Regions from separate parts of the Homo sapiens genome. Here regions 1 and 3 are each reported to be linked to region 2. Evidence: microRNA targets listed by miRTarBase, many of them from high-throughput screens and not tested one by one. Region 2 holds a microRNA gene; each other region holds the end of a gene's coding sequence.

What was found. The annotated mature microRNA hsa-miR-8073 reads ACCUGGCAGCAGGGAGCGUCGU and lies in region 2 at 1,795-1,816, opposite strand. An mRNA with a match to its seed (bases 2 to 7 or 8) in the 3' UTR can be bound and repressed. Matches are read on the target gene's strand: a 7mer-m8 pairs with bases 2 to 8, a 7mer-A1 pairs with bases 2 to 7 and ends in A, and an 8mer does both.
Region 1: the mRNA of MPI is a reported target of hsa-miR-8073. Seed matches in the 3' UTR shown: 7mer-A1 at 1,661-1,667.
Region 3: the mRNA of RAD18 is a reported target of hsa-miR-8073. Seed matches in the 3' UTR shown: 7mer-m8 at 864-870 and 7mer-m8 at 40-46.

What each region holds. Positions count from the first base shown.
Region 1 is chr15:74,897,321-74,900,413 of GRCh38, reverse strand. MPI (mannose phosphate isomerase) reads right to left here. Exons shown (of 8, transcript NM_002435.3): 8 at 1-2,902. The coding sequence ends at 2,684. It overlaps FAM219B (family with sequence similarity 219 member B), which reads left to right. Exons shown (of 5, transcript NM_020447.5): 5 at 1-422. Among named protein-coding and RNA genes, the nearest start is that of FAM219B, 8.0 kb to the left of the region's middle. RefSeq lists an enhancer at 1,203-1,702.
Region 2 is chr13:110,337,644-110,342,783 of GRCh38, reverse strand. It overlaps MIR8073 (microRNA 8073), which reads right to left and starts at 1,826; the gene lies at 1,755-1,826. The region is part of intron 3 of COL4A2 (collagen type IV alpha 2 chain); the gene reads right to left. RefSeq lists enhancers at 1-581, 4,125-4,626 and a silencer at 1,653-1,722.
Region 3 is chr3:8,878,694-8,881,786 of GRCh38, forward strand. It overlaps RAD18 (RAD18 E3 ubiquitin protein ligase), which reads right to left. Exons shown (of 13, transcript NM_020165.4): 13 at 1-2,766. The coding sequence ends at 2,664. Among named protein-coding and RNA genes, the nearest start is that of RAD18, 83 kb to the right of the region's middle.

The DNA of each region.
Region 1 (3,093 bases), not on the chromosome of region 2:
GGCAGGACCCCAAAACCAAGGCCCTCTGCATCGTTGTTGTAATAATCAGCTCTGGCATATTCAGCTGCAACTGTCCCTGAAGAAGAGGTTTCTGAGCTGGCTGACCCCATGTAGGAGGGTGTTACCTTGTAGAAAAAGCTGGAGGGACCTGGTGGGACAGTGCAGTGAGGCAGGGTAGAAATGGTCAGTTGTTTAGGGCCAGTGGCCACATACCAAAATACCACCAATGTGCCCAGGGCCAAACTGCCTTAATTCTGAGTGCTGTGTGTTCTGCAGGTGACAGTTTCCTGAGGAGAGGGGTGTATCCAGGCTTACCTCCCAGCAGGAGTGGTACCATATGGTGTTTATGTACTACTCTATAGAACTCTTGGCTTGCACTTCTACAGCTCTGTACATTTATAAGAATAAATGCAATCACACTAGTTGAGCTGTGTCTGTGTTGCAGTGGATTTTAAAGGCCTTGGCCAGGCACAATGGCTCATGCTTGTAATCCCAGCACTTTCAGAGGCTGAGGCAAGCAAATCACAAGGTCAGGAGTTTGAGACCAACCTGACCTTACCTGGAATTGTAGATCCTGTCACCCCGTCTCTACTGAAACCCCGTCTCTACTAAAAATACAAAAACTTAGCTGGGTGTGGTGGCAGGCGCCTGTAGTCCCAGCTACTCAGGAGCTGAGGCAGAAGAATCGCTTGAACCCAGTGGGCGGAGGTTGCAGTGAGCTATCGCGCCACTGCACTCCAGCCCGGGAGACAGTGCGAGACTCCGTCTCAAAAAAATAAAAGTTAAGAATATCCTGGATATCCTGAAATGAAGAAATAGCTTAACAGCTGACTACAGCAATTCCTTCTGGAAACTCCCTCCCCTTTCTGCTGTTCCCACTGGGCATCACTTTCGGGCCTGTTTCACTGGACGGCATGAGTGAAATAGGCTCTTGCAAGTCACTTCTGTAGAATGGGTTCCCTTTAGCAGACCTTTTCTTTCCAGCTCATCTTTATTGTTTTTTAGCTGAAGAAAATTTGGAGGCAAGAAAACCCAGGAGATTTTTGAAGGTGGTTTCCTGGAACTCCATTGTATAGGGACTCTAGTGTGGGCAGAAGCCCAGAAAGATTCTTTTGCATGAATTTAAACCTTTATCCCACAGGAAGGAGCCAGTGGACTAAGTGATTAGTCTGTGGTGACAGGATCTACGATTGCAGGTCAGAAACCTCAGCAGCAGCAGACAGCCGACAGCCTCTTGCAGGTGTGTGCCACCCCTGGAGCAGGGCATCAGGAGATTCCCTCCTTCACACTTCCTGCCCGTTTAGGAAAGCTAACTGGGCTTCTCCTCGCCATGAAAATTGTCTAATTCGGTTCCTGAGTCCCTGTAATCTGCAACAGTTGAGTATGTTGTAGAGAAGTGGTTGACAGTCAATGGTTTCAGTTTTGCAGGCCGTACAGTCTAGTGCAACTCTTCAACTTTGCCACTGTGGCTTGAAAGCAGCCAGACAGTATGGAAATGAACAGGTATGGCCAGAACTGGCCTGCCAGCCTGGTTTGCGGACCCCTCCTCTAGGGCCAGTTGAAAAACAGGAGCCGGGCCAGGCGTGGTGGCTCACGCCTGTAATCCCAGCACTTTGGGAGGCTGAGGTGGGCGGATCACGAGGTCAGAAGATCGAGACCATCCTGGCTAACACAGTGAAACCCCATCTCTACTAAAAATACCAAAAAAATTGGCTGGGCGTGGTGGTGGGCGCCTGTGGTCCCAGCTACTTGGGAGGCTGAGGCAGAAGAGTGGCGTGAACCCGGGAGGCGGAGCTTGCAATGAGCCGAGATCGTGCCACTGCACTCCAGCCTGGGCTACAGACCGAGACTCCGTCTCAAAAAAAAAAAAAAGAGAAAAACAGGAGCGAAGAGTCTTGCACTGGTGACTGGTGTATCCTTTGAGTCACCTTCTCTGTAGGGCTGCTTGCAAGCTGTGCCTCTGGGCAGACCCAAGGCCTGCTTGCAAGCTGTGCCTGTGAGGCCAAAGCTGGCTTCCTCTCCCACTCCTTCCCATACCGGTGTTCTGGAGTGTAGCCTGCTCACTCCCCCGAGAAGCTGTATGAAATAGGAATAAAGCAAAAACTGGGGCATCATGTAGGGAGGGCTCTTTTGGCCCACTTTAGGAACAGGTACCCCAAAGGCTGAGTGCTCATTACCCCACAGCCTCAACACAAGTGATCTTTAATTGCTTTGACAGAACAAGGGTGTAAACAGCGTTAGTCTACAGGCCTACCCTTTCCCTTTCCTCCTCTGCAGCTGAGGAAATGGGCAGTCCCATCGCTAGAACCCTGTTCTTAGAAATTACCTGGTCTCTTGCTCTGACAGATGCTGAGCTAATGCTGGGTCACATATTTAACAGCTAGCCTAAAGCCATAGGCTGGAACAGAGTTGGCAAGAGCCTGGCTCAGGTGTAGCGAGGAGTAGAGAGGGAAGACAAAGGGAGTATCAGACCCCTCACACGGGCCTCTCCTCCCCAAAGATGGTTCCACCTGGGTGTGTTCAGGAGTCACTACCTTCACGCTCCCTCCTCCCCCACCCCAGCTCTTCCAGGGTATACCTAAGGGGTCCAGAGCAAGGAAGGGGGCTTGAGCTGGGCCCGAGGAGGTGAGGTTGGCTGGAATTTAGGGTGGCTGGCAGAGGAGAGCTGGGGAGGCTGCAGCCTTTACAGCAGACAGCAGGCACGGAATATCAGCAGGTCCTTCGGCTCAGTAAGCTTCAGTGAGACACTCTCATTGGCCCCAATGAAGAGCACGCCACCACGTTGCAGAGGGATTGGTGTCTGGGTTGTGGGTGTGCTGGCTATTACTGTCCCCTGTACCATCAGGAGGATGCTGGCAGAGTCCAGTGCCAAGACCTTGTATTCAGTGACAGAGCCAGGGACCTGGGCAGGAAGAAATGATAAGGCAGTGCAGCTCAGACTCTGCTCTCATCAGCTCATGGGCCCAGGACAGTCCCCAGGGCACGAGGGAGAGCTCTGCCACCTTCTCGCACAACCCAGGCTCAGTCAGCATAGAGGCCTGGTCCCTGGTACAGGAAGGAATGGGCAGGCCCTGGGGCCACCCTCCGCCAAGT
Region 2 (5,140 bases):
TTTGGTTTGCTCTGAATGGCACTGTGTTTGGGAGAAACTTGATTTGCTTTGGACCAAGGGTGCCCGGGCTCCAGGCCATGTTTCGTGGGGGCGGTCTTGTGAGGAATGCTCATCCCACATGCCCTGCAGGGTCCTCATTTAAAAAATGGGTAGAACCTACTGTTCCTGCCTCCTGGGGTTGCCGTTAGGATGAAAGGAGATTAACCCACGGGAAGAGGTGAGGATAGTGCCCGGCTCCCGGCAGGAAGTACCCAGCATCCATGGTCCATGTTCTTAACCTGCATTTTATCATCTTCCCCTAGTGGGGGAAGATGCTGGTGTATTTCCATCTCACGATACAGACCTGGGGAACAGCAGGTGTCAACACTGTTATTGTTCAAGGAGATTGCTCTTTATGGAGACACTTGCATGCTTTAGGATTTTCACTGAGTAAGCATGCATATAATGCTGACTCTATATGGCTTCCAGAATTCACCTTAAAAGGGTCTTACTTGATTTAATGTTAAGTTCTAGGTACCATCAATTTCTCTGAAGTAAGATTTCAAAAGGAAAAAATTTAGTAAGCTAATTCATCTCTAATAAGTCAAATTCTTAGCTTTCTTTATTCTATCTCTCTCTTTCTTTTAAAAAATTCAATGAGTAGCTGGCTTAGGCACAATTTAAATGGCTCATCTATGCCGAATCTTGTACCCGAGGTCAACCAATGAGCCAGGGTCACTTGGGATCCAGGCCAAGATCCCCATTCTCTGTTCGTCACTATGAGCCTAAGATAAAAATTCGTGAGTCCTGTCTAAGCAACAAGGCTTGTAGTCCTCCTATGTATCAAAAGTGCTCTTATCATATTACAAACAACTAACATGCTGAGATTATAAACATCCACAAACGCGGACTTCCTCCAGTATTCTATGTGATGTCATCTGGCCCTTCTTTCATATCCGCTTTTATTATGCTCCTGTCCTTTCAAAACAGACTGTGTGCCACAGTACAACAAAAGCCAGGAAACGTCGGCCCTCTGGCAGCGAGACAGAGCTGGAAACAAGGAGAAACTGATAAAGCAGAAACACCTCCAGATGGAGAAGTAAAGAATCAATCCTGACACAGCAACTCAGCCTGGCGTCTTTAAAGCCGGTATCCCCTTACGCACACCTAAGGAAGGCTCCTGCTCTGCTCCTCTCAAAGTGGAGTTGTTACTGAGTTGTTTTCATCAGTGCAGGTGGACATTCCCCAGAAAACGTCCTCTAGCAAACACTTCTGAGAGTCTGCTAAGTGCTAAGATCTAAAAGCCAATAGGCAGGCCCCTTGTCCTTGGGAGAAGACAAGCCAGTGGCAGAAATCAACAGCCCTGAACAGTAAATCCTTAACAACACCTAATCAGCCACAAACTATGTACACCCAACCTAAGGCTCGTGAGTGAGTCCCACAGCCACCCTTAGTCACTGCTCCATAGGGGCTGGACGGCCAGCAGCTGGGATTTCTGGCTATGGGTGGGAACATGACAGAAAGCAGGGAACACAGAGCTTTGTGCAGGGCGGTGTTGGTCTGACACTCTACTGGGGAGAAGCCCGTCGTCCCGATGACGCCACGCGCTTGGATGTGTTTTAAAATGGGGTTCTGATGCGAAGGCAGCGCTGGCCACCGACCTGCTCAGTGAACACCGGAAGTGGCGGGCGGGCTTCTTTCCCTTCTCTGTCGTGATTCAGTGCTTCCTGTCACCCCCAGCACACCCCTCCCCACCCCTGGGGAAGCCACTGCCAGGAACCAGCTCCCTGACATACCATAAACAGTCAAACACTGACGACGCTCCCTGCTGCCAGGTCACTGAAATCTTTTCCCTTAATAGACAATACTCCTCCTCCTGTTGGGAGCAATCCACAGACGCCGGAACACGAGTCAGAAAGGAACAGAGTCCTCTGAAGTCCCCAGAATCGCATGGCTGAAAACGCCCCGAGAGTACCCAAGGGTCACACTCACACATGCAGAGCCTGAAGCAAGCGAGAAGCTGGGGTTTGCTCTCGGGGAACTTAACAGCCAAGGACATAGAGTGAGCTCGAGACCCTAAAGACTCTCTGTCCCTGTGCAGTTCTTTGTGCTTCGTAATGTCTTCATGAGCTACAGGACTGCTCTCCTTTCTTCCGCAGCTGCCCCAAAAGACTGGATCTTTCTGCCCCTGGGCTAGGAGAAGTACCCTTCAGAAGATGCTGCCAAAGGAACTCCCCAAGGTGGGGAGGGGATGAACCTTAAACATTTTCTTTCTACACTTCCACTCTTCTCAAGTCTTCTCATCCTCTTCCTTTATCTCTTTTTGTTCTTTTACATCTTTAGAATGAAGTCTTTGGAAAGGTGGATTTGCTGTATTTGTAGTCAGCTTACATGAGGACCATGGCCATATCTGTGGCTAGAGTAAATTGTCCTTGGCTGGGCGCGGTGGCTCACGAGGTCAGGACGTCAACACCAGCCTGGCCAAGATGGTGAAACCGCATCTCTACTAAAAATACAAAAATTAGCCGGGTGTGGTGGCGTGCACCTATAATCTCAGCTACCAGGGAGGCTGAGGCAGGGAACTGCTTGAACCCAGGAGGCGGAGGCTGCAGTGAGCTGAGATCAGGCACTCCAACCTGGGCAACAGAACAAGACTACATCTGAAAAAAAAAATTGTCCTCTTAGACTGGACTCTGCAGGGGCACCAGGTGCCCATTGGGTGAGAGGTTCTCAGGCTCTGTGAACCAGGAGGCCCATTTATTATCCACTCTACCTGTCACCCACCCTCAAGGATTCAAGCCATTCTGGCAATGTCATAAACCGCCAGGATGAACCTTCTTCCTTCCAATCAGTGTAAACAGTGTTACTGTTCTATACTGGGTTAGTTACAGGATACATTATGAGTTTATACAGCTTCATGGAGTGCCATTGTTCCATTTCTGGAATGCTTCTGAAGTGCCACAGACTGTCATTATTTGGATGGTCCAGGTTAGCAACTCCTCGGCACCGAGCACCTCTATTTTGACTCCTTCTTTGATTTTTTCCTCCCACCAAGTTTACTGAGCATCTATTATGGTCCCAGGTATTGTGCTAAGACTGAGGATACCAGGTTCAAAGATCAGATTTCCAGAACTGGAAAAGATGAGCAAGATGATTAATTCTGGGAGATCCCAGTCTTTTATTAATGAAGACCTACTTTTGACTCTGTTTTTGTTTTTTTTCCCCTATATCTGAGGCTTGTAGAGAAAGGGGCTGTGCTGCTGGAGGCTGAGGCTGACATGCACTCCCTCTGGCTCAGTCCTCACAATTGGGTCGGAGGCAGTAAACTCGTTTGAGACTGACCGGCCAGGCTTCCAAGGTCAGGGAAGCCCCTGCTCCCACGACATTCTTCCCACGAAAACTGGGTGCTACAGAGATTTTAGGGAACTTCCCTAAGATGAAGCCCCAAATATGCAAGCACCAGTGATTCCCTCCATCCAGGAATCTCATCACGATGCTATTGTGATAACATGCTGCCCCTCCCACACCTACTGTCCATCAGAATTCAGTCCTCTTTTCTCTAAACGAAGGCTTTCTGCACAAAAGGTAAAAGAAATCCAACTGTTTGGCCCATTTAAAATCAAGTCACTGAAGTTTCTCTGAGCTCAATCACACTCTTCATCTCTGAGGTTCATCTCTGTTCTTACCACATGATAACGTGAAAAAATAGTTTCTTAAAGAGCTGGCCCCATCATCTCCAGAAATGATGTTAGGGAAGGTCCGTGGAAGGCACAGGCCTGCAGTACTGAAGGCAGAGGCATAACTGCCAACCACAAGTCACTGATTACAATCCAAGAGCACCATTTTCTTCCTTTTATGGGGCATACGACTCTTCCAAACATTGTCCTGCAGATACTTAAGAAAACAAAACAAAGCCCCAAACAAAAACCCGAGCTCCTTACTCCACAAGCGTTGTGACCTCCCGGCTCAGGGCAGCAGCCAGTCGTTCTTGGCTGTGGGAGAGAACCTGGGAGGGCGGCGAAGAGCAGCCAGACATTTTTTCAGCTTGCGTCTTCAGGGGACAGAAACAAGGCATTCTTTCCTTCTGCAAATCCAGGCTAGCAGCTCAGGAAAACAATCACTCCTTTTCCCAGCTGCAGAGATGGCTGGATTGCCTTGGCTGCCTTGCACGTTTCTCCCCTAATCTTCCAGATAAACCATCCCTGGGGTCCCAGGTTTAGCTTCTCGGCAGAGGCCCGTTGTTTTCAGTGAGTGCTAACTGGGAAGGCCCAGGCCAGCTCCCTCCTGCTCTAGTAGAATTATCTGGGTTTAACGGGCTCCCTAGAGCCTCAGTGCTCTTCAGGGGGAGCATTTTACCCCCACCCCCCCCCACACACAACATTTTCTGTGTCTTTTCTCCTAGTTTTAATAGTTGGCCACATGGCTCAGTAACTGTGCCTCTCTCCTCTCTCTCTCTTTCTCTCTCTCTCTCCCTCACTGTTTTCCATTGCATTTTTGCTCTTTTTTGCCAGCTAATGGTAGAAGCTCACCATTGGAGCCTTCATATGCAGTAACTGCTCAGCCTTAACAGACTATTCCCTTCTCTCTTAAATTGATGAAAGACACTTTTTCTCTAATTATTAGAAACAACTAGTGAAATATTTATAGAATATAATAAAATGCACATGAAACAGACTCAACAAGGGATCACGGAAAGATCTAATTTAAAAATCAGCTTAGGATCCAAGTGAGCAATACGCAGTTCCTATCACGGTGGCATAAATGGTTCCTTTGGAGAGTTTTGTGTGATTCCAGAATACTGTTAATCCACACCCCTGGCCTCATTAACCTACAAAGCAACAAGAAAAGGAACTTCAAGCCCTTGGCATCATGCTGTTTACTTTCAATGCATGTTCATTTAGTGAATATATGCTCACTGCATATATTTTAGTGAGTACATATATCTTCACAAGTATCAATGCTCTCTCTATTTTTAACAGTTAAAAAGTGCTTTTCCCAAAGCTGTCCTGAAAAATGTCTTGGGGACACAGACACACACAGCAGAACCTGCTGCAGGGACTTCCCTGGGACAGGCAGACTTCAGATTCTTAGAGCCTCCAGCACTGTGTCAGAGGGCTGCTTGCGGTCAGATGTGGAGCAGGACCTTTTGGATAGCAAGGGT
Region 3 (3,093 bases), not on the chromosome of region 2:
GTCGAAAAAGAAAGACGAGAGTAGAGGATGAAAGGACGGCCTGGCATACTAGGCCATCTAAAGTGCATCCAGCAGCTCACCTGCACCCCCACAAACCATAAGCATCACTGCCATTCTGAGCTGATGTTGATGGGAGATGTTATAACTTTGAGGGGAGTGAGGAGGTAGAAAGAGTTAATAACTCTGAATTACTGTAAGTTTGGTGAGAAACTGTATTTTCACTAAAAGGTGAATTTTAGAACCAGAAGTTTATCAGTTTCAATTTTGGATCTATTACTTACTCTAAGTTCCTTAATCTTTGTCAGATGGATATGAACATACATTTCTTTCAATGTATGAATATTAAACATATGCTAAGTGCTAACAGATAGTGCTCAATAAATGCTCTTTAGACCTTACTTTTCAGGTAGACTTGGGAGTTCCTTTACATTACAGGTTTCTCAGTCTTGGCACAACTGACATGTTAGACTGGATAATTCTTTACTGTGGAGTGTTGTAGTCTAAAGCGTGCCCCTTAACCCCTACCACTAAATATGTTGGAAGTCTTAACTGCCGGTATCTCAGAATGTGACAGTATTTAGAGATAGGGCCCTCTATCTAAAAAAGAGGTAACTGAAGTAAAATGAGGCCATACGCATGGGCCCTGATCCAATGACTGCTGTCCCTACAAGAAATCGGGACACCAGTCCTGCACAGTCATGTGCACACAGAGAAAAGACCATGCAAGGACACCATGAGTGGAAGCCAAGGAGAGAGGCCGAAGAAGAAACCCTACTGATCTTGGACTTCCAGCCTCCAGAATTCTGAGAATACACATTTCTGTTGTGTAAGCTTCCCCGTCTGCAGTATCTTGTGACGGCAGCCCTGGCAAACTAATCCATGAGGGTTGGGTGTTTAGCCTCATCCCTGGCCTCCACCCATTGATACTGGTAGTACCCCTCACCACCCTCCACCTCCAAAAGTGTCTCCACACATTGCCAGCTGTCTCCTGGGGGGCAAAATCTTTCTGCCCACCCCACTGGGAACCATTGTTCTAGATGATCTTTGGCCACCTTTGTATTCCCAGTGTCAGCACAGTGACAGACATAGATAACCAAATATTTGCTGAATGAACTCATGTGCCTACTTTCCCAATCTTGGGTCTCACCGCTCCCTCACAAACTCCTTTTGCTGCAATTAAAGTAATAATTACTTCCAGTTTAATTTATAGACTATATAATTTGTCATGAAACAAACAGTTTTCATTTTGACATAATTTCTGACAACTCAGTGACATAAATATATCCATGTGAGCTCCTATTTTGTTTGACATGCTCACTTACCTCACATCAGTTCTGCCGATAGATTTGGTAAGTGGTGCTTTTAGTTTCCTTAATGCACCCCTCAGGATTTCATGCAAATGAAATTATTATGACAAATTTTTCTATAGCCATTTCTAACACAGGGAACTCATAAAGAAATCAAATGTCTGCACTTCACTGTGAAAACACTAAACTCTCAGCCATAATGAGACTCCACACATTATCAGAAACCCCAAGGCATACCAAAAAGACAAGGTCAACGGAGACAGTCTTTGGAAGGGGAGGTCATAAATGTTGAATCTGGCAAATCATAAATTTCTTGTCTTAACATTGCCGCATTTACTATCATCTCATTTGAAAGCTGATGTGTTTGGGTTGGGTGATGGCAGAGGGGTGGGAGTTGGGGGATGCTGGCTCTGAAATGCCAGAGAGGCATTAAGAACTCTGGAAGCATCTGGCTACTGGTAGACATTTTACACAGATAGCAATTTCTGACCAATCCATTTCAATGATTTCTAACCCATACTCAACTATCCAGAGGATACTGTTTTAAGAACATTATTGTAAACTGATACTCTCTATTCATTTACAAAATTCATTCATTGCATACTTTTTGTTTAATAGCTTGGATTCAGTGTTACAGATTTGATTGACCCAAGTGAAAAAATACTGACACTAATCATTTTTAAGTGCTATTTCAGAAGAATATGCGCAATGTTTCTAAGTTATTGTGACTTTGTGACTGTCGTAGCTTTAAATTATAATACTAATATCCTACTCTGAGAAATGTGTAAGACACAGGTCTAACAAACAACTACATTAACCTCGGGCAACAACCATCATGGAGCTGCTGTAACACAGGCATGGTGGTGGCGTGCATCGGTACTTACACACACCAAGGATGTGAACTGACATCCCGCCTTTCCAAAAACAAACATTTAACTCAACTGTTTCTTGCAATAAAGAAGTTGAAAGAATCCTTTTGTGAGGCTGGATTCTCCATGGAAGAGAAGGAGAATGGCCTAAGGACATTCTGAAATTTAATTATCAAACCAAACCAAACCAAACCAAATCCCTGTGCCAAAGTGCCAAAGAGTCTACCTCCTCTGCAAAGCTGGTACCTGTGTGAAATGTCAGTATTTTTAGAGAGAGATGTTTTAGAGGCAGGAGGCAACTGACCAAGTAAGGATATTTTGTAACATTTTTCCCCTCTGGAAAAGCAGAAAAGAATGAATATCAGCTAACCGTAATATTTAGAATTTAGCATCTTTCCTTGGGCATTTATAAATAGAAAATCTATCTGTGGCAACCAAAAGTACGGTATTCTAATCAATGCATTTGAAAAGTCAGCAAAAGCCCACATTAATTCCTATTACGCTTGTTTCTTGGTTCAATCTCAGCACTTTCAGCGGCTCTTGTGCGGCGATTCTGTCTTGGACTTATTTCTGTGTCTTGAAGATCGTTTCTGAAGACAGAAAAAGGAAATGACATCTTGGAAAGTAATGATTATTGTACAGCAGTTTCTAGTTTACAAGTGTTTTCACACATATTATTTCATTAAAACCTCGAAATAATCCTCTATTCTGTTGATGAATTCATAATTGTTATTATTAGTATTTCCACTTTATGAATTAGTGAGTTAGCAAAGATCACAGATAGTAAATGAGCTCTGAACCCCTTTTTCTGAATTAAAATTTAGGAGTTTTATGCTTCTGTTTAGCATGTAGAGGGCTGGGAAAAAACGGCAAACAAAAAGCTGCTCCCATCCTAACAAGAAAAAGCCAGACAGTCT